7 separate regions of the Homo sapiens genome follow, and all the other regions are reported to be linked to region 7. Evidence: microRNA targets listed by miRTarBase, many of them from high-throughput screens and not tested one by one. Region 7 holds a microRNA gene; each other region holds the end of a gene's coding sequence.
The links. Region 7 holds the annotated microRNA hsa-miR-3927-3p (CAGGUAGAUAUUUGAUAGGCAU, at 1,655-1,676, shown strand). A microRNA usually pairs through its seed, bases 2 to 8, with sites in the 3' UTR of a target mRNA and lowers its output. Matches are read on the target gene's strand: a 7mer-m8 pairs with bases 2 to 8, a 7mer-A1 pairs with bases 2 to 7 and ends in A, and an 8mer does both.

Region 1 (3,071 bases), not on the chromosome of region 7:
CGCTTTTTCATTCTGACCCACAGAGGCAGCACAGATTATCTAGAACAGTGACACAGGCTCAGGCCCTGTTTGAGTCCATACCTGCCTCGTGGTGGTTCAGCGGTGTCCTTGGGCATAACAAAAATCAGTAGGCCCTGGGGCTGTTTGCCCGATCTGTGTCTGCAGGAAGAAAGGGGTGGGGAAGAAGAGGTCAGAAGCAAAGCAGGGATTGGAACGAACTGGGTGGCAATGGGCAGGGGTGATGTGAAGCAGCTGATCGAAATGGCTGATACCGTCCCAGGATGACTCTCGCAATCATTCTTTTAACCAAAATGAGGTCTTTGAGAAGAAGGGATGAAGGGCCAGCCAGGTGTGTGCACCTGAACCCAAGCTCCTCCGGGTGGAGAGCTCTGGAAGGCAGTGTCAGTGACAGTCACAGCATGCCTCGCCGAGTGTCAAACGCGGCCTGGAACCCTCCAGTCCTCTCACACTGACATCAATTCCGAGCTAAGTAGATTCCTCAGCATTTCAGGAGATTTGAAAGTGATGGGCACTTGTGACTAACAGTAATGGCAGGTGGGGTGGAATTAAGGGGCATGTGGCCTGTCACAGTGTCGAGGGGCTCCAACACCTCTTCATTGCCTGGGGACCCACTGTGGTGGTGTCATCAGACACACTGATGAAAGTTAGGAGTTCCAAGGCAGTGCATCCATATACCCAAACTTTTACTCAAAAAAAGACTGGTGAATATTCCAGAATAATGTGTGACAGCTACACCGCCCCTGCTGGGCCTAGGTCAGCAGACTTGTCATGCTGTGGGCTACCAGATACGCATCTCTAGCTGACAGTCACCCTCTCTTCCCAAGGCTCAGACATCAAGATTAAAACAGCTTGAGGCCACCCGATTAACTCAGTCCCAGGATATGTAGAACAGCCCCTACTGCCGGCACATCCTCCATGTTTCAGAGCCCAGGAAGAGGGGACTGTGGACACTTTGGACCCACCCAGAACCAGCACAGAGGGAGGCGAAGCTGCAGGGCTTCGGGCACGTTAAGCCCTGGTGCCCCAGCTTCAACATCAGTAATATAAAGAAAGCCGGACCTCACAGGGCTGGTGAGGGCCAGGTGAGTTGATGCAGGTGAAGTGTGTGGGAAGAGCCCAGCGAGCCGCGTGCCCACATGGCCCTCGTGCAGCAGCCAATAGTCAGCATCCTGATGCCAGAAAAACAAGGCGGAACAGCGATTCAGGCACCCGAACCTGCCAGCAGGGGCCTCCTCTACTCTAGCAGAAATTCTTCCCCTTGGTAGCAGTAGGAGTCCTTTTCTGGTGCTGTTTTGGAGAGAACAGAACTGCTAGCGAGGGACCAGCTTCCTAAGGGGCCTGGCCCCTGACTCTTGGTAAATACGACCCTCCTGGGGAGTATTCTGGACTGAGTTGCATCCCTCCAAAACTCCAGTGTCAAAGCCCTAACCTCAGGACCTGAGAATGCAACTGTATTTGGAGACAGGTTCTTCAAAGAAGTAAGTTAAAAATGGGTCCTTCGGGTGGGTCCTAATACCATCTAACTGCTGTTCTTAGATTCTAAAGAGGTTAGGACACACAGAAGAGACACCAGGGCTGTGACACACACAGAGGAACGACCACGTGAGGTCAAAGTAAGCAGGTCTGCAAGCCAGGGAGGCCTCGGGAGAAACCCACTCTGCAGGCACCGTGAGCTTGTACTTCCAGCCTCCAGAACTGTGGGAAAATACATGTTTGTTGTTCAAACCACCCAGAATGTGGTGTTTTATTCCGGCAGCCCTGGCTAGGATCGAGGCTGGTTCAGGATCGCTCGTAGGAGGCAAATTAACACAGATTCCCAGGGCCCATCCTAAAGCCTGAGGCTCAACACGTCTGAACTGGGGCCCTACCTTAATAACAAGCCTGCCCAGGCCATTCGGACACAGGGGTCTATAGGTCAACCTCCGCACAGGCCGCACTAGGGCCTCAACTCCAAGGGTGGCCCACAGATCACAGAAACAGCACCACCTGCAGTTCATGAAAAATGCAGTTTGCAAGGCCCAACGGACGTGTGAATCCGAACCTGCAGGTTCACAGAATCCCCTCAGGATCTGTAAGCACACTGAAGCTGAAACAGCCCTGCCGGGCGTCTTTCCAGAGTGTCAATAAATTGGTGTACTATAGCCGCTAGGAAAGGTTTGTAGAAAAAATTGGAGTTCTGCATTTTGCTTTAGCTTTTCCTGCCTAAATGCCTGGAAAACAAATTTTCTTATGAATATTACCAACCCTCTGGGAAAGTAATAATTAACTGTTTACAAGACACATTGTATTATATTACAAAAATAATTACATGGAATAAGCCACATACTTAGTTTATTATAGGCATGTCTAATTGAAATCCATGAAAACAGTTACATTTAAAACATTCTTTATGCACTATACTTGAAAATGTAAAATATAATACCACTTAAGTACTTCCCACATTAAACTGATTTTTCTTTTTTTAAAAAAATTTTTCCTAGTCGTTATTTAGCTTTCGGACACCATAATACAATAGAACAGAAAGAGTATGTTAAAAGAAAAATATTAGGTAGAATGTTGTAAAACTTTTAATTTACCCATCATATTTAACATTTCCAAGACTATTTTCCTGCGCCTCATCTGCCCTCAGAGAGAATGATCCCCACAGTGATGAGGGGTCAGCACTCTGAAAGCCAGTTGACGCCAGACAAGCTGCTGGAACAGCTGGGGCACAGCTCCGCCTCTCCTCCAGCCCCTCGGTCCCATGAGGCCAAACAATGAGGACAGAGGGGCTGAGGGGTGTGTCCAGGGCCCAGTCCCACCTCAGCAGGAAGGTGGCGTCAGCACTCGCAGTCCCAGCCTCACGCCGCATCGCAGTCCCAGGGGATCTTCACACAGGGAGGGTGAGCTGGTTAAGAAGGCGGGTGATCCTCCCCCCGGATGCTTCGATACTTAGCCATGTCTTCCGGAAATACTTTAGAAAGTTCTTGAATCAACAGGCTTTTAAATTTCTACAAAGAAAATACATTATCAAAGGAGCTCTTCACATCAACACTCCAATAACTATTTAA
Region 2 (3,083 bases), not on the chromosome of region 7:
AGGATATATATTAGGTAAGGACGCAGGTATATGCATTCAGCTGCCCACTCCCTTTACATATCACAACATTTTTGGTGGCCTCAGCAGTTCTAGTAACTAAAATGTCAGAAAAGTGTGGTTCTGTGGGCTTCCTTATCACCCTTTTTAAAAACCTCAGATATATTAGCACCCAGAAGTAACTTATTTTAGATGAAATTTGTTTCTAAGGAAGCCACACCACTCAGTCTAATGTCTGGGTTCTGGGCCTTGAAACTCTGGCTGTGCCAGCTCTGGGGCAATCTTGCTTTACCATTTTTCATTTATGCTCATGCAGGGTATTCTCATGGGAAGACCTGGCAGACCTACAACATGTGAGGCAAGGCAAGAGACCCAAGGCCAGTAAGCTCTTTCCCTTCATTCTTGGTTCTAGTACAGAGGCTCATGTTCATGGAACACAGGTAGAATCAGCATGCCATTAACATTCCTCTGCAGTCCAGGAACTTCTGTATTTCATGTTTTTAGAGACAGGGTATTGCTCTGTTACTCAGGCTGAAGTAGAGTGGGGTGATCTTATCTCACTGCAGCCTCAACCTTCTGCACTCAAGTGATCCTCCCAGCTCAGCTTCCCAAGTAGCGAAGACTACAGGGACTTAACACCATGGCTGTCGGATTTTTTTTTTTTTTTTTTTTTTGGAGACAGAGTCTTGCTCTGTCACCCAGGCTGGAGAGTAGTGGCACAATCTTGGCTCACTGCAACCTCCGCTTCCTAGGCTCAAGCAATCCTTGTGCCTCAGCCTCCCCAGTAGCTGGGATTACAGGCATGCACCACCATGCCTGGCTCATTTTTTGTATTTTAGCAGAGACGGGGTTTCACCATGTTGCCCAGGCTGGTCTTGAACTCCTGAGGTCAGGCAATCCACCTGCTTTGGCCTCCCAGAGTGTTAGGATTACAGGCATGAGCCACTGCACCCAGCGGATTTTTTTCATTTTACTAGAGACAAAGTCTCACTATGTTGCCCAGCCTGGTCTTGAACTCTTGGACTCAAGTGATCCTCCTGTCTTCACCTCCCAAAGTGTTGAGATTACAGGTGTGAGCCACTGTGCCTGGCCCCTTCTGTACTTTTTAAAAGGCAAAACAAGTTCGAGAGATGTTTTCAATCCAATAGTCTCAACTAGCTAATTCTCCTGATTTCATTTTCGACAAAAATCTGTACAAACACACCATATGTAGCCAATGGTGGCAATGGGTGTTATCTTCAGGGAATCTTATCAGGAAAAGCCTAGATAAAAATCTCAAGATTTACCACACCCATGACATTTTTACTTAGGGTGGCCTTGAGATGCATCCTTAGAGGTATTTCATATGTATATGCACGGCACAGCAACATTAAAAAGACTTTAGAGGCTGCTTATAATACCCATATTCCATGTGGAGTTGAGATTTGGGCTGTGTCCATAAACATGGAAACATATATTAACAAGACAAACTAGTAAATCTCTGAAAAACAGTCTTCACACCTGGAGAGATCGAAGAGCTTTTTTTAGCCAGCTGTCAAATGGCACTGGTATCTTCAGCGGGGGTTTTAATAAATCCTGAAACTCAATATGGCTTTCTGATTTTAAATCTGTTGCTTCAATTTCTTAATGTTCTTCTGTGAACTTTGAGGAGGGTCATAGTACAGTGTACATTTTTAATCTCTTGAAAAGATATACTTTGTCAGATTCTTCATCTCAATATGCCTGTCTTTCAGCTTAGATGGTAGGTATAAATAGGGGTGAAAGAGCAATTAAGGCTACCAATGAGGGACAATTATTTCAGTGCCTTTGAAGTCAGGTATCTCATATAAACTTGTGTTTCAGGTGAATAAAAGTGCTGAGAAATCCTCTCCTGATTCTGAGTTTAGATCCTGGAGTAAAAATTTGAATCTAATTTTGTCCATGCTAGACTAAGAATATTACCTCAAGGTAATATAGAAGTCAGTGGTTTCAGTGTTTTACTCCTATGTGAATATGAAATATACTGCAGTTTAAAATAATCTGGCACACTGTTAGGCAATATTACTAACTCCTTACTACTTAGAAAAACTAAGTAGGCATTTTCCTTAGACTTTAGCATAAAATATATTTTCTATGTTTTTCATAAAACTGAATGTCCTTACTTTTAATTAACACAAAACTAAAACACATTTTAGTATTTTGCTGTTAACCATTTAATCAACAGCATAAACACTGCTTCAGTTTCTCACAGTCTCTTAATTTCAATATATATCTACATATCTATATCTATATATCTGTCTGTGTGTCTATATTTACGTTAACTATTAAGTTATTTTTATAACTTTGGTTTGGTGAGGTCCTGACCACCTAATAGTGACAGGAGGTAGAAGTAGGGGTAGGTCCTTACAAAATATGTTTAATTCTTGTTCACTTTTGCTAATGAGTCTGAAAACACTTCATTTTGACCACAAGTTTGGAAATGTCAATGACAGTAGAAATTTCTGACCATATCTTAAAACTACATAAAAATTACCAGTGACAAAGAAAAAAGGCTTATATTACATTTAATAGTGTTAATTTTGAAGACAATAGTGTTAATTTCAAACTTCCATAAAGGGTAACCCTACAGTTGAGGTGTTTGATGCAGAAACCAGTACAAATTTCGATTGTTAGGAAACCAAATGTTCTGAACATTATTTTCATTAGAAAAGGGAAGGTAATTTTATAGTTGTTTGAGGTGTTGTAATACATCTACTGATAGGCCCAGCTGTTTAACTAAACTGGCTGTCTGTTCCAAAATCCATGTGGGGCTTGGGTTTTCTGAATGTGCATGCTCCTGTGTTCTACAACATTCTACATATGAACAATCTATCCCACTATGGCTCTTGCTACAGTTTTTGTTAAACTCAGCATTATTTTCACAGAGTCTTTCATCTTTAGCTTCATCAATCTTTTTCTCAGCTGGAACTACATGACAAAGGTCCATATCCTCAATGGAGTCCAATAAATCTACAACATGGGACGGTGGAGTGATTGATTTCAGATGTTTGAGCACATACTCTTCACACTGGCCAACTGCATCCAGAAGATTGTTTATTTTATTGATC
Region 3 (3,083 bases), not on the chromosome of region 7:
GGGGGAGACCGACCGACCTATTTGTTGGTCTCCATCGTGTGAAAACATGAGGAAGTGGGCACTTACATGCCAGGAAGAGAGCTCTCACTAGAGGTTGACCATGCTGGCACTCTGATCTCAGACTTCCAGCCTCCAGATATGTGAGAATATAAATTTGTGTTTTGGGCCAGATACGGTGGCTCAGGCCTGTAATCCCAGCACTTTGGGAGGCCAAGGCAGGTGGATCACCAAAGGTCAGATCTGACCAACATGGAGATCAGCCTAACCAACATGGAGAAACCCTGTCTCTACTAAAAATACAAACTTAGCTAAGGTTTGTGGTGCATGCCAATAATCCCAGCTACTGAGGGTGAGGCAGGAGAATCACTGGAACTCAGGAGGTGGAGGTTGCGGTGAGCCAAGATCATACCATTGCACTCCAGCCTGGGCAACAAGAGCAAAACTCCATCTCAAAAAAAAAAAAAAAAAAAAAAAAAAAATCCTGTGTTTTTAACCTCATTGATTTAAAATTAAATTAATTTCTAAGCCATTTGGTCTGCGGTATTCTCTTATGGTTGTCTGAGCTGACTAAGGCAGATATTGGTACTGAGAAGTGAGGTACTGCAATTAAAAACAAACAAAAAAACTAAAAATGTGAAGCAGCTTTGAAACTGACAAATGAGTAGAGGCTGGAAAAATTCTGATGTGCAAGCTGGAAATAAGGTTGGTAAGGGTTATTCTGGTGAGGTGTCATTGGGGAATGAGGAACATGCTATTGGGAAATGAAGAAAAGACAACCCTTGATATAAAGTGGTGAAGAACTTGGCAGAACTGTATTCTAGCATTTTACGGAAGGTAGAGCTTGAGACAGATAAAATGGTATGTATCACTAAGATCTGTAATTAAAGTGTTAAAGGACACAGGAAGCTTCATTATTCCTGAGTGCTTACAGGAAAATGTGCTGGGAACAGGCCCCCCAAATCTGGCCATAAACAGGCAATGAGAAACTGGCCATAAACAAAATCTCTGCAGCACTGTGACATGCTCGTGATGGCTATGACGCCCATGCTGGAGGCTGCTGGTTTACCAGAATGAGGGCAAGCAACACCTGGCCCACCCAGGGCAGAAAACTGGAAAACTGCTCAAGGCATTCCTAAACCACAAACAATAGCATGAGTGATTTGTGCCTTAAGGACATATTCCTGTTGCAGATAACAAGCCAGAGCCTGTCCCTTTCTTTCTCATAAGGAATACTTATAGCTGATCTACAATCTATAGGAATAATGTTTATCACAGGCTTACTGTCAATAAATATGTGGGTCAAACTCTGTTCAAGCTCAGCTCTGAAGGCTGTGAGCCCCGATTCCCACTCTGCACTATATTTCTGTGTCTTTGTCTTAATTCCTCTAGAGCCACTGGGTTAGGGTCTCCACGACCCAGCTGGTCTCGGCAAAAATGCAAAAGGAGACCTGAATTGCAGAAGAAATTGTTAAGGAAAAAGGAACCAGAACTTGGAGATTTGGAAAATTCTCAGCCTATCCATACTGCAAAAATTAGAAAACTTGTACTGAAGAGAATCCTCAAAGTGTGGCTGAACAATCATTTGATAAAGAGATCATGAGTGGGATTCATGGACTATATCAGCCATCTTAACAGAAGTGAGAAGAGAGACTGGATTATACTATAAGAGACACTGCCACTTACATTGTGCCACCTAAAATGGACAGAGAAGACAGAACAGAACAGTCAAGGTTGTCACACTTCTTATTTTACAAGAAGGGGACATAGAAATAATCAGCTGTGAAAGGGCACTGGCAGTTATGGATGGTTTCACTCCTGACATGCTCTGCAGGATCCATGGGAACAGAAGAGAACCTTGGAGGAGCATCTTTTTAACAATCCACCTCTGGGGCCTACATCATCTTGGCTTCTGGTAAATTTTGACATGAATGTGCCACACTGGCAGCCACTAACCAACAGGGGCTGGGATCAATCTGCATGATTTATCTCGTACAGAACTTGTTAATGCTATGATCTTAGGAATCTAATCACCAAGGTGAGGCAGCCTGCAGTACTGACCTCACCATCCATGACCCTTCTTCACAGATGCCCAGACTCAGGTAACCATGATGTTGTATTCAGAACCTGTAGGTTTAATTTCAGACCCTCGGGATGCATCTAAGGCCAATCTGTGAGCCATTACAACCTCCAAAAGGCATTTAGGACTAATCTGATGATCTTTGCACTGCCAATAATTAAAGATGGCAACCAATGGGCTAAATGGTAACAACACTCATATCCTTACATTCATAGTATTTCTCCCCAGTGTGAATTCTTTCATGCATACTTAGGCATGAGGAAAGAGCAAATGCTTTCCCAAATTCTTTACATACAAAAGGTTTCTCTCTGGTAGGAGTTCACAGGTGGGGTGAGGAATACAGAAATTCTTTCCCACATATCTTGCATTTACCTTTCTCCACTGTGAGTTTTCAAATGTTTACTACGATGGGAAGAAGTAATGAAGGTCTTCCCACATTCAACACATTCATAAGGCTTCTCTCCTGTGTGAATTCTTCTATGTTGAGTAAGCGTTGAAGATCTATTGAAGGCTTTCCCACATTCCTTACACTGATAGGGTTTCTCTCCAGTGTGATTTCGTATGTGTATAGCAAGGCCCGTGTACTGAGTGAAGGCTTGGCCACATTCCTTACATTCATAGGGTTTTATTCCAGTGTGAGTTCTTACATGTTGAGTAAGGTGAGTTGATCTAGTGAAGGCTTTCCCACATTCCGTACATTTGTGTGGTTTTATTCCAGTGTGAATTTGAATGTGAACATTAAAGGATGAGGAATTTCTAAAGGATCTTCCACATTCTTTACATTCAAAGGACTTCTCTCCTTTATGAGTTTTTGCATGTGCAGAAAGTTGAGAAAAATTAGTGAAGGATTTCCCACAGTTCTTAGTCTTTTCGGATTTCTTTCCAGTATGAACTGCTACACACTGCTTTAAGTGTGAGGAAGTTGTGATGGCTCTCTCACATTCCTGAAATTCACAGAGTTTCTCTCCAATGTGGATTCCCATGTGATTATCAAGGCTTGCAAAAT
Region 4 (3,079 bases), not on the chromosome of region 7:
TCACGGCACCAAATTTCATGTGCGTCCGTGTGAAGAGACCACCAAACAGGCTTTGTGTGAGCAACATGGTTGTTTATTTCACCTGGGTGCAGGTGGGCTGAGTCCGAAAAGAGAGTCAGCAAAGGGAGATAGGGGTGGGGCCGTTTTATAGGATTTGGGAAGGTAATGGAAAATTACAGTCAAAGGGGGTTGTTCTCTGGTGGGCAGGGGCGGGGGTCACAAGGTGCTCAGTGGGGGAGCTTCTGAGCCAGGAGAAGGAAATTCCCAGGGTTAATCATTCAGTTAAGTTGGGGCAGGAACAAATCACAATGGTGGAATGTCATCAGTTAAGGCGGGGCAGGGCCTTTTCACTTCTTTTGTGATTCTTCAGTTACTTCAGGCCATCTGGGCGTATAGGTGCAAGTCACAGGAGATGCGATGGCTTGGCTTGGGCTCAGAGGCCTGACAGTGAGACTTCCCCCTCCCACCATCTTCCACCTCCCACCATCTTCCACCTCCTTCTTTAGGCCTGATTTTTTTTTTTTTTTTTTTTTTTTGGTGAGACAGAGTCTTGCTTTGTCGCCAGGCTGGAATGCAGTGGTGCAGTGGCGTGATTTCGGCTCACTGCAACCTCCGACTCCCTGGTTCAAGCAATTCTCCTGCCTCAGCCTCCCGAGTAGCTGGGATTACAGGCACGCACCACCAAACTCAGCTAATTTTTGTATTAGTAGAGACGGGGTTTCACCATGTTGGCCAGGATGGTCTTGATCTCCTGACCTTGTCATCCGCCTGCCTCAGCCTCCCAAATTGCTGGGATTACAGGCATGAGCCGCTGTGCCCGGCCTGCCTGATGTTATTATACTACTATGGGTGAGGCTCAGGAAGGATGATGCTAATGTGGACAGAGTTATCTCCCTGAAAACAGATTAACCTATAGTCAGGAAACTGCAAGTGCATTACTAGTTGATGGGAGAGGAGGGACAACACCCAAGCTGGAGGTCCTGGCTTCCAGCAGTAAAATTTATTAACTCCCTTGTATCATGAAGATGAGAAGGCCCCACTTAGGGGGTGCAGGAACTGCAAGGAAGAAAGCAGGAAAATCATAGAGGAATTAGCATCAGATTCCATATTCTATATAGCAGAGATTTATAGGATGATGGGATTTGAGGTTTTAAATCACGAGTTCTCAAACTGGCCTCCAGACCAGCAGCATTGGCAATTTGTTTAAACTTACTGAATCAGAAATATTGAAGGGCGGGTCCCAGTAATCTTTGTTTTAACAAGCCCTCCAGGGGATTCTGATGCCTGTTCAAGTTTAAGAACCACTGTTCAAAACAGTAATCACAAAATTAAGTTTCTGCAAGGTTAGGAGGGAATAATCACAGAAGGAATACTGGGTCCTCCCATACTTTTCTTACCAAACAAGCTGCCTCATAGAGCTTTTTAAAACTCATCAAAACTGTTAAACCCATTGGACTTCCAGTGAAAATTTGTTCCACGGAGGTAAATCTAGAAAACTTTTAGATTAAAAAGCTTTAGAATGGCCAGGCGCGGTGGCTCACGCCTGTAATCCCAGCACTTTGGGAGGCTGAGGCAGGCACATCACCTGAGGTCAGGAGTTCAAGATCAGCCTGACCAACATGGTGGAACCCTGTCTCTACCAAAAATATAAAAATTAGCCAGGCATGTTGGCAGGCGCCTGTAATCCCAGCTAGTTGGGAGGCTGAGGCAGGAGAATCGCTTGAACCCAGGAGGTAGAGGTTGCAGTGAGCAGAGATTGCCCCAGTGCACTCCACCCTGGGTGACAGAGCGAGACTCCATCTCAAAAAAAAAAAAAAGGCTTTACAGTAAAGATTTCTTCTTGGCTTCCTCTTAAATGATCGAAAGGATGATGGAGATACTTCCTGTTTGCTTGTTCACATTGTATCCACAACAAATAGTAGGTGTCAGATTAAAATGTATTGAGTGGATGCATGAATTAATGAAGGATAAATATCAGTATACACATCCCTTATCCTCTACAGCAGGGATCAGCAAAATATGGCCCATTGCTTGTTTTTGTAAATAAAATTTGTTAGAATGCAATCACACCCCTTCATTTACTCATCATTTATGGTTACTGTTGGTCTACCACGGCAAAGTTGCAAAGTTCAAACAGAGGCATTGTGGCCTGTAAATCACTAAAAGTATTCACTAACTGGCTCTTTATGGAAAAATGTTGGTGACCCCTGCTCCAGGATAGTGTTTCTCAAACTATAATGTGCATACAGATTTTCCAGAGAGATTGTTAAAATGGAGATTCTGGTTCATGGGTGATGCCAATACCACTGGTCCAAGGACTGCGTGGGGTAGCCTGGAAGAAGAGCACCTAGGATAGTGTTGTGTAACAAGGTCAGGGCCCTTGTGGTTTGTTTCTCTTGGTCTCTACATGATCATTTATGATTCAGCAGCTCTCAAATCCTGGGCCAGACACAGTTGAAGAGTAAATCATTTTATTAAGAAACCTGGGCCCACATTCCTTCAGCTCAGCCTCACCTTAGGCACACCTCTCCAAGTTCCCTAGAGGAATTCTACAGAATTGTGAGTGCTCATGGTTTCTTACCGTTCTAAGTGTCTGTGGTGACCCTTCACCCACCTGTCCCTCTAGGCAGCCTCCAAGCCCAGCTTTTTTATTTTCTCGGTGGCTCTGCAGGATGCTAAATCTGGAGAAGCAAGGCTACTCCAGCCAGAACCCACTTGGATGGGTTTTCCTTAGTCTTCAGGTTGAAAGTCCACACGTAGGTGGGTCCCCGCTGACTAGTCTTGTACACAGGACAGGAATAGACACTGCGGCAGTCCTGCTTATCTGCAGGAATGGCCTTGATGAACATCACAGGCATAGGGGGTGTCAGATCCTTCAGCTTTGCCTCTGTAATGATCCCAGCCTGAGGATAAAACATGAGAAGAGGCACCTTAGATCAGACCCAGAGCCCAGCCAACCAGCCTTGCTCTTGTCAGCAGATCCAAGGGAGGAAAGACTGGACTGACATGGCTGCCTTTATGCCTGCCCCCTTCCAGGTTTTCTCAGCAGCCTTTGATGGAATGCATCTGATATGTAGAA
Region 5 (3,083 bases), not on the chromosome of region 7:
CAGTCCCTGCAGATACTACTTCTCAGATGAGGCTTTCTGAAAGCATCACAGATTCAGTCTAGAATTTATAATTCTAGAGGTCCAGGGACTATACAGAGGGAAGTGTTAAATCTGAATAAAGTAATTGGGCAGTCAAGATGCCTAACGAACTCAGTGTCTGGATAGTACGTAACAAGAACGATTCTAGGTGCACAGGAAAGAAAATAATTCATTACACCATAACACTAAATGGCTTGTCTTGCAGAACCCTGGTTGAGAAAGGTTGCTCCAGGTGTTTGTTCACACATATGTGGAAACAATTAACCAGTGATGTGGCAACCAGATGACTGCTAACTACAAATCCATCACTATGTAGTGGAAACAATTATGTGGATTTCTGAAAACTTTTATTTCATATACTTTTATTTTTGTCAGTTCTTTAAATCCTCTGTTCAGAGCACTATTGAGAATGACTAGAATGCAAAGCTTTTACAGCCCACCTGAAAACAGCATGAAATAAGTGAAGGGAAGAAGACACCCATTTTAAGTTTTAATTACAAATTCTTGTCTAAGTAGTGATTTTACAGAACAGTAAATCAGATGTAAATGATTGAGAAATTATGTTATGTAACAATGACTCTGAAAAAGGTGAGCTTCCTCCACAGATACCTGAGTACCTGATGCTATCATAGACTTACTCCTTTTAAGCACCAATTATTTTCTCCCATCTATGCCAGCTGTTGTTATTAGGAATCAAAATTATTTCTTGCACCAGGTAAAGTCTCCAGCAGGAGAGGAGACTGGAAGTCAAAGACGACATTAAGTTAGCTTTCACAAACTTGTTCCCAACACTGTCTTGAGTCTTTTCAGGGCCAGCCTGGTCTGAAAGCAAAACTCTACAGTGATTGCCCTCTGGGGTGAAGACACTGGCCCTTCTCTGCTCCAGCACCACATGTCAGGGTACCTGGCTGTGGTACCAGCACCCTGCCTAACATGACAAATTAATGTACCGAAGTAACCAGAAACAACATTCTCTATTGACTTTTCAGGACTGCAGAAAAAGTCACTTCATGCTATTGAAAATATGGCCTGGCATTTTTAAAAACTAGTTTTTGGATCACTTAAAATATGTCAAATTTAGTGGAAAATTGAAAAAGATCTTTTTCCTCTTCCTTACAGAGTTCTTCAATTTGCCCTAAACTCTTTTTTAAGTGCTTCCAATAGTAACCATCAGGCTGACAGACCATAGACCCCTTTATTACATTAACAAATATACTGGTAATTCCAGTGAAAGAGTTAACAAATTCTCAAGAGTTACCTCAGGAATTTTAAAGTCATGTTGTGGAGAGTATAAAATATTTTCATATGGTGGCTCAAATATGCAGTAGGATAACATTTTTAATGTGTTAATAAGATGTGATAAAAACATAAGTCTACAATGAACATATGTGAAAAAGATATTTAATTGCAAAATAGAAAAGTAGGCCAGAGTACAGTTTTAAGGGTAATTGCTTTTTTATACAGTATAGATAACCTAGAGGGATTTCAGGGTTAAACAGTTCATAAAGCAATAAAACACTGAAAAATAAAGCAAGAAAAAGGGGTTTGAAGTAATATTTTACCAAAAAAAAAAAAGAAAAAGTGAACAGTCTGCCAGTGTTTAATGTCCATACATTGTGGAATTCAACAATATTGTGATGAGAGCAAGTCATAGCACAGACACTGAGCTTTCAAAAGGAAAAGTAGAAGTTACATTAGACATGTCTATTGCATCACTGTAATACAAAAAGTTCCTGTTCTACATACAAAAGCAATTTTTTTCCGTAAGAATCATTTCCTGGGGAGAAATAAGTCCATAAAATATTTCAGAAACCCATATGCATTGGGTTTTCCAAAAACATTATCTTAAAATCAGTGCCTTAAAGTGCTTTCATGTGGAAATCATGATGGAAGGCACAGAATACAGTTTCACGTCCCCACTCTTAAATTTTCAAAAAAGCACAGATTTTGCAGAATTGGCAAATTCAAGTTATCTTGTAGGCTGCTCCTTCCGAGAACACTGTCATTCCAATAAAACCAGCTGCCAGCTTACTTCGTTTCAATGACCTACAGAGTAAAGGGGTTTTGTTTTTGTTTTTTTCTGGTCACTTTCATCATTTCTGTGGGAGAAATACCTATGTAAGTGATGCATTTTGAAATTATAAAACATGCAGAATATGTACAAACAGAAATTTTTAAAAATATTTGCTTCATATACATGTAAATCTACTTGGGTATAGCTGAAATTGAACAAATATAAAAATTTTGCTTTCTAAAAAATGTTTTCAGAGAATCTGACACAACTTAAAGCTGTACAAAGATTTCCTGGGAGAAATCTTCTCTTCATACAGAGGTTTATACCTACAGGAGTAATTCCAGCATCAGTCCACCATAATTATTACACAACATTTGGCCTAACCAACAACGATCACCCTTAAAACTGTTCCGTTTCTGAGAAATTAAGGTTTGTACTAAAATCAAAAAGAATTCACAAAAACAGTGGCTTATTCTGGTTTTGGATCTCTTCAACAATCTTTATCAACTCATTTGGAACTGTAAAAAAAAAAAAACTATTTACAGAATTCAGTTTTAAATACATTTCACAACTTCTAAAGTAAAGTTTTATGTTACAAGAACTCAGAGCTCATGGCTTAAGTCCAATTATCCATCTGTAGTCTCTTCTATCATTCTGTATTCCCATGGCTGTACCTTTGTTGTGTACAGTTCAAGATTGTATTCTTTCTTGACCAAAAGTAAAATCAAACTACATGTTCATTTCAATTAAACAGCTTCTTTATTAGTCTGAAGACGAGTCATAGCTTCCAACTTCTGTCTGTAGGCCTCTGCTTCCTGTTCTTTCTTTAGGAGCTGCTGTCGATATTTTTGTGCTTCTCGATTTGCTTCATCCAGCTGTTTCTGAAGAGCTTCTCTCTCCTAATTAAAAGAAGAGGGTTTTTTTTTTAATTTTTGCAAAAATACATTATTAATACATATAAGCATGCATCCTTCAAATTAAAAAAAAAAACCGTAGTAGCTAAAAGCAGCCACCTATTGAAATTTCCTAG
Region 6 (3,075 bases), not on the chromosome of region 7:
ACGTTCCTCCTTTCTGCCCCTACAGGCTCTGGCTTATCCAAGAGGCAAACACTGACCTCTGGTAATTAAAATCCTAGTTCTTTTCTTTTGTCTTTTCCAGGAATTTGACAAGAAGTACAATCCCACCTGGCATTGCATCGTGGGGAGGAACTTCGGTAGTTATGTGACACATGAAACCAAACACTTCATCTACTTCTACCTGGGCCAAGTGGCCATTCTTCTGTTCAAATCTGGTTAAAAGCATGGACTGTGCCACACACCCAGTGATCCATCCAAAAACAAGGACTGCAGCCTAAATTCCAAATACCAGAGACTGAAATTTTCAGCCTTGCTAAGGGAACATCTCGATGTTTGAACCTTTGTTGTGTTTTGTACAGGGCATTCTCTGTACTAGTTTGTCGTGGTTATAAAACAATTAGCAGAATAGCCTACATTTGTATTTATTTTCTATTCCATACTTCTGCCCACGTTGTTTTCTCTCAAAATCCATTCCTTTAAAAAATAAATCTGATGCAGATGTGTATGTGTGTGAATTACAATTTGTTCAAATAACAGCGTTGAAGACGGTCACTTGATCAGATGCCCAGGTTGGTGGGGATGAGTCCATCCTTACAGAAGTTAAGTTTCTGTGGGGTATTTCAGTACTCTTTAGTCACATTCTCTCACCCATCCTGCAACTGTTGTGCATGTTGAGAAATGCAGTGCATGATAAAGAAACATTTAAATTAAATCTTTAGTCCTAATCTGAAAAAAATCAATGTTTAAGGATATTTGTTAAGACATTGCTATAGAATGTTCTGGGCCTTTGGCCTCAGGTTGTGGTGATGGATGTGTATGTAGTAGTACTTGAAGCTTTCTATGGCTATAAAATGGAAATAAGCTCAAAACAAAGTTGGGATAATGAAATGGATTCCAGGACCCTTGTCTAGCCCCCTCCCCTGCCTAGAAAGAAGGTGGCCTTAGGGGAAAGTAAATGTTTCTGAGCAGCAGTTTTCATGCTCTTCTAATAATGTAAATTCCTGCAAAGACTTTATCAGCCTGCTGTGCTGTGCTTTGCTGTGGTCAGGAACAAGTGTGAATTGATACCTTTTCCTGAAAAGACCCAATTAAAGCTGGGGACAAGTAGCTATCAGAGGTTTCCTGCTATCAATTTTAAGAGGACTGCAGTCGTAGAAAAGCAAATATGGCAGACTTGTAGGTGGAAAGGAAATAAGACAGGCTGGAACAACCCACACCCATCTTGGGAAACTGCAAGAAGGGTCCTGACTTGTAGTTAGCCTATGTTTTCCCATGGATCTCTAAGATGCCATTGGGATTTCTAAGCAGCTAGGTGACTGCTACACAGAAGAGGGCGATAGATTGGAATTGATGGGTGATAACTCCCATTGTAAGAGTAGAATTAGGTCAGTAACATATTTGGAAGTTTATTTTTCTTCAGAATGTGTGGTTTTAAGAATCCTAGCAAAGTTGTGCTACTTTAGGATTGGAAGGGTTTCAGGGTAGAGGTGCAAGATTTTGACTTTTTTAAGACAGAGTTTCGCTCTTGTTGCCCAAGCTGGAGTGCAATGGCGTGATCTCAGCTCACTGCAACCTCTGCCTCCTGGGTTCAAGCAAGTCTCCTGCCTCAGCTTCCCAAGTAGCTGGGATTACAGGCATGTGCCACCATGCCCGGCTAATTTTGTATTCTTAGTAGAGATGGGGTTTCACCATATTGGTCAGGCTAGTCTCGAACTCCTGACCTCAGGTAATCTGCCCACTTCTGCCTCCCAAAGTGCTGGGATTACAGGCGTGAGCCACCAAACCTGGCAATTTTGACTATTGTGCCAGTTTTTTCCCTGCTGTCTGCAAAAAAGGATGAGGTACTGTGGAATAAACAGGAGACTGCAACTGGGGTAATTTTATGTTTGTATTTATATAAACAGACCGAAAATGTTCCTTTTTTCTAACTTTCATTTTTTTTGAGACTCCTATTGCCCAGGCTGGAGTGCAGTGGTGTGATCATAGCCCACTGCAACTTCAACCTCCTGGGCCCAAGTGATCCTGCCACCTCAGCCTCCAAAGTAACTGGGACCATAAGTACATGCCACCATGCCTAGCTAACTTTTGAATTTTTTGTAGAGCTGGAGTCTCCCTGTGTTGCCCAGGCTGGTCTTGAATTCCTGGGCTCAAGCAATCCTCCCAAGGTGTTGGGATTACAGGTACGAGCCACCACACCCGGTTTAATTCATATTTTTTCTTTTTTTTTTTTTTTTGAGACGGAGTCTCACTGTCGCCCAGGCTGGAGTACAGTGGCGCGATCTCGGCTCACTGAAAGCTCCGCCTCCCAGGTTCACACCATTCTCCTTCCTCAGCCTCCCGAGTAGCTGGGACTACAGGCACCCACCACCACGCAAGGCTAATTTTTTTTGTACTTTTAGTAGAGACGGTTTCACCATGTTAGCCAGGATGGTCTCGATCTCCTGACCTCGTGATCTGCCCACCTCGGCCTCCCAAAGTGCTGGGATTACAGGTGTGAGCCACCGAACCTGGCCTAACTCATATTTTTTCTATCCCTTTTCCCTCTTTAGTGACCTGGCTATATTTCTATTTGAAGCCCACAGGGAATTTGGCCTCCAAAGCTTTAGTTTGTCCAGTTAAGCCCTACTCAGAACGGATGATCTGTCTCTAGCTACAGACCCAAAAGCTGATTCAAGACTGATAGCTAGACACTGGGAGTTTTAGTTGAATATGATCTGTCCCATATTTACTGTCAAGTTGGCAGCTTTTTTGTTTTTTTATTCAGATGTGAGAAAACCATGTTGCTATGGAGATAAGACTGGGTTGATGGTTTATGAAGCTCCTTCCAGTGCCTGTTCCTTCCTGTTAATTTCAAAAGCCAATAGGCTCCAGCTGGCTGAAAAGAAAATGTAAGCTAAGTTTTTCTAAGCATTTATCAAATGCTCTTAGCTGCTGTTCTTTGAGAGAGTTGTATATAGCTAGCTCTATCTAGAAGCTTTTTAGTGACAGGGCAAGATCTTGTAAGTGAAGGCACGTAAATGATCCTTACTGTGCTGGGTCAGGAAGCAGCGTATCTGA
Region 7 (3,083 bases):
ATACCTGTAGTCCCAGCTACTCAGGAGTCTGAGGTGGGAGAATTGCTTAGACCCAGGAGGTTGAGGCTGCAGTGAGCCGTGTTTGTGCCACTGCACCCCAGTCTGGGCAACAGAGTGAGACCCTGTTTCAATAATAATTAATGAATTAAGAACATTTCAGATATAATACACAGCTTGAGCCAGGGCTAGTCAAAGATGTGAACCAGCCTACTGCATTAGTGTTTTGGAAGGGCTGACACTTAGGGGCAGGAGGAGGGAGGGAAAAGGACCAGGGGAAGGAAAGAACAAGGTAATGCAGGGTTCAGAGCACACAGTGCTTTAAACACCATGTGCAGGAATAAGAAATGTGTCCACGGTTTCCCTTCTCTGAAACATTTTGTGTAGGAGGTCCCAAAGGCCTGTCTCTCCCTGATTAAGGAGGAACAAGGTACCTCCTAAAGAACCCTGAATAATTACCTAAAAATAGATAAACAATTTTAATCTCCTTTATGTCATACTTATGATTAAAGTCTTAAAAATCCTGTGCTTGGTGTTTCCGGTTTCAATGTGTGGTCACACACCTTACCTCATGTAGTCTTCATGGCATTCAGGAAGCAGGTGTTACCAAATTTTGTTTGACAGATGAGACACTGAGATTTAGGAGTCCCTAACAAACATTTCTTGACGTAAAAATGAAAGCTGTCTTTTAAAAAGCTTTAAAGATTAGTGTGATAATGTTTAACTGAGTAGGTGTGTGTTCTTCTCAGGAGTGAGAAAAGTGTGTTTGGCTGCCAGATGGCTTTTGGAGACTTGTGTTGGTTAGGCCAGCAAAAATGCCCTCCAATCTGTGGACCAGCTGCACCAGCTGCACCCAGGAGCTTCTTAATAATGTAGAGTGTGAGTCTCCCCCTCCAGAGGTTTTCAGATTTGGTAGGTCAGGGGTGAGAATCTGGAAGGAATATCGTTAAAAAGCTCCTCAGGTAATTCTGATGCACGGCCAGGTGGAAGATTGGTCAATTGCCTCTTTTGGTTGCAAGGATAATTTGAGGCCCTGATGATAAAAATGTGGTCTGCAAGCCACCTGTCTCAGCATCACTCAGATGCAGTTTCCTGGACCTCGCCCTACCAAATTAGACCTACCAAATTAGAAATCTCCAGAGGTGGGCATATTTTAAACAAACTCCCAAGATCCATTTGTTCATTTATTTACAAATATTTCTTCAGGTCTAGGTATGTGATAAACACCATTCCAGGAACTGGGATATAAAGGCAAATGAGGCCAACAATGTCTCTCCCCTAAAGACACTTGAATTTTGACCCAGCTCTTTGAATGCTGGAGTTTGAGAACCACTATCTTAAAATAATACAGGGATTCAACCAAAGTTCCTATTGGGACTGCCTCAGTTATCCATTGCTGGTAACAAAACACTGCTAAAACTTAGTGGCTGAAAATGACAATGATTTTTCCCGTCCTCATGATGCAATGTGTTGGCTGGTTGATTCTCCTACAGGTCTGCTCTGGGTTCGACTGAGATAAACCTGGCCTGGCTGGGCCCCTCTCCATGAAGTTGTTCATCTCAGGCTTCTTAGGGCATGGTGGTTTCAGGTTTCCAAGAGGGCCAACCCCAATATGCCAATGCCTATCACATATCTGCCTGTCCTATGACAAACATGGCAGGTAGATATTTGATAGGCATTGGCACACTGGCAAAACGAAGTCCTATGGCCATGCTCAGCCTCAGCATGAAAGGGGAATTCACAGGAGTGTAGACACCAGAGAGTCACTTCTTTGGGGATCACTGCATTCTGTCAAAGTTACTGTGGCTGCCCCTTGAACCTGGCATCTCTTTGTGTATCTTCTCACTTCCCCACTGTTCTCTAGTTTAAACTCCTAGGTGAAGGAATCCAATTGGTCTTGCTAAGCACGTCCATGGCTCACAGTCACCCCTACTCATGGGGATTTTAGGACTCAGCAGGATTGCAAGCAGAGCTGGTGTAAAGGAGATGAGAAGGACACTAGGGGTATCTTAAGCACCATGGCTGAACCTCCCATAGGATAGTCATAAAATTCCCATGGTCAGTGCTTTAATCACCTTGATATAAAAATATGCCCCTAAATATTTTATGTATTTGTTGCTGGGAGCAAAGTTAAAGTTTTGTGTTTGATATTGATTACATGGATTTTTTTAATGTTTCTTTTTGATTTTTGGAATAACACATATATGTTGTAGAAGTTTTAAAAATACAAAAACGAAAATTAAAATCACTAGTCATAGCATTATCTAGAAAAACCTTTTAGCACATTTGCTTTCACATTTTTGCTCATAAATGTGTTCTTCTTTACAGAATTAGGCCAGCAATACAGCTTTCTGTCTTACACTCTTTGAATGCTGGAGTTTGAGAACCACTATCTTAAAATAATGCAGTGATTCAACAGGAGTTGAATCACTAGCATTATCACTAGTGCTAGCATTTTCCCACGTGATTACAATCTCCTCGTAAAATAATTTTGAGTTATATAACAATCAGTGAGACATACTATTTCATAATCATACAGTTGCTTGTTTCATATATATATATATATATATATATATATATATTTTTTTTTTTTTTTTTTTAAGACAAAGTTTCGCTCTTGTTGCCCAGGCTGGAGTGCAATGGCGCAATCTCGGCTCAATGCAACCTCTGCCTCCGGGGTTCAAGGGATTCTCCTGCCTCAGCCTCCTGAGTAGCTGGAATTACAGGCATGCACCACCACACCTGGCTAATTTTGTAGTTTTAGTAGAGACAGGGTTTCTCCATGTTGGTCAGGCTGGTCTCGAATTCCCGACCTCAGGTGATCTGCCCGCCTTGGCCTCCCAAAGTGCTAGGATTACAAGTGTGAGCCACCACGCCCAGCTGTTACATATTTTTTGGCAATTATCAGCAGTGCTATAATGACTCATTTCTGTTCATAAGCCTTTATCTGCATTTGGATTTTTCCATTGAATAGATGGGGTTCATATCTTTTCTTTATATAGCACAGTTTTTAAGATTACTTCAATGTTTCCTAATAAATAGCTAAAGAGATATTTTCCCTCCTGAATGGGACCAACACTTCCCTC

Region 1: the mRNA of MED10 is a reported target of hsa-miR-3927-3p. Seed matches in the 3' UTR shown: 8mer at 2,567-2,574.
Region 2: the mRNA of YAE1 is a reported target of hsa-miR-3927-3p. The part of its 3' UTR that is shown has no 7-base or 8-base seed match.
Region 3: miRTarBase lists ZNF562 as a target of hsa-miR-3927-3p. Seed matches in the 3' UTR shown: 7mer-m8 at 833-839.
Region 4: miRTarBase lists DNAH9 as a target of hsa-miR-3927-3p. The part of its 3' UTR that is shown has no 7-base or 8-base seed match.
Region 5: miRTarBase lists GABPB1 as a target of hsa-miR-3927-3p. The part of its 3' UTR that is shown has no 7-base or 8-base seed match.
Region 6: the mRNA of DYNLL1 is a reported target of hsa-miR-3927-3p. The part of its 3' UTR that is shown has no 7-base or 8-base seed match.

The regions. Positions count from the first base shown.
Region 1 is chr5:6,369,591-6,372,661 of GRCh38, forward strand. MED10 (mediator complex subunit 10) reads right to left here. Exons shown (of 4, transcript NM_032286.3): 4 at 2,284-3,011. The coding sequence ends at 2,913. Among named protein-coding and RNA genes, the nearest start is that of MED10, 7.4 kb to the right of the region's middle.
Region 2 is chr7:39,572,322-39,575,404 of GRCh38, reverse strand. YAE1 (YAE1 maturation factor of ABCE1) reads right to left here. Exons shown (of 3, transcript NM_020192.5): 3 at 2,524-3,083. The coding sequence ends at 2,699. Among named protein-coding and RNA genes, the nearest start is that of YAE1, 7.5 kb to the right of the region's middle. RefSeq lists a silencer at 448-648.
Region 3 is chr19:9,650,504-9,653,586 of GRCh38, forward strand. It overlaps ZNF562 (zinc finger protein 562), which reads right to left. Exons shown (of 6, transcript NM_001130031.2): 6 at 1-3,083. The coding sequence ends at 2,446. Among named protein-coding and RNA genes, the nearest start is that of ZNF562, 23 kb to the right of the region's middle.
Region 4 is chr17:11,969,124-11,972,202 of GRCh38, reverse strand. DNAH9 (dynein axonemal heavy chain 9) reads right to left here. Exons shown (of 69, transcript NM_001372.4): 69 at 2,455-2,903. The coding sequence ends at 2,676. Among named protein-coding and RNA genes, the nearest start is that of ZNF18, 27 kb to the left of the region's middle.
Region 5 is chr15:50,275,833-50,278,915 of GRCh38, forward strand. It overlaps GABPB1 (GA binding protein transcription factor subunit beta 1), which reads right to left. Exons shown (of 9, transcript NM_016654.5): 9 at 1-2,952. The coding sequence ends at 2,800. Among named protein-coding and RNA genes, the nearest start is that of HDC, 12 kb to the left of the region's middle.
Region 6 is chr12:120,497,973-120,501,047 of GRCh38, forward strand. It overlaps DYNLL1 (dynein light chain LC8-type 1), which reads left to right. Exons shown (of 3, transcript NM_003746.3): 3 at 101-521. The coding sequence ends at 238. Among named protein-coding and RNA genes, the nearest start is that of DYNLL1, 3.4 kb to the left of the region's middle.
Region 7 is chr9:109,510,073-109,513,155 of GRCh38, reverse strand. MIR3927 (microRNA 3927) reads left to right here and starts at 1,611; the gene lies at 1,611-1,681. It also overlaps a transcript of PTPN3 not described here.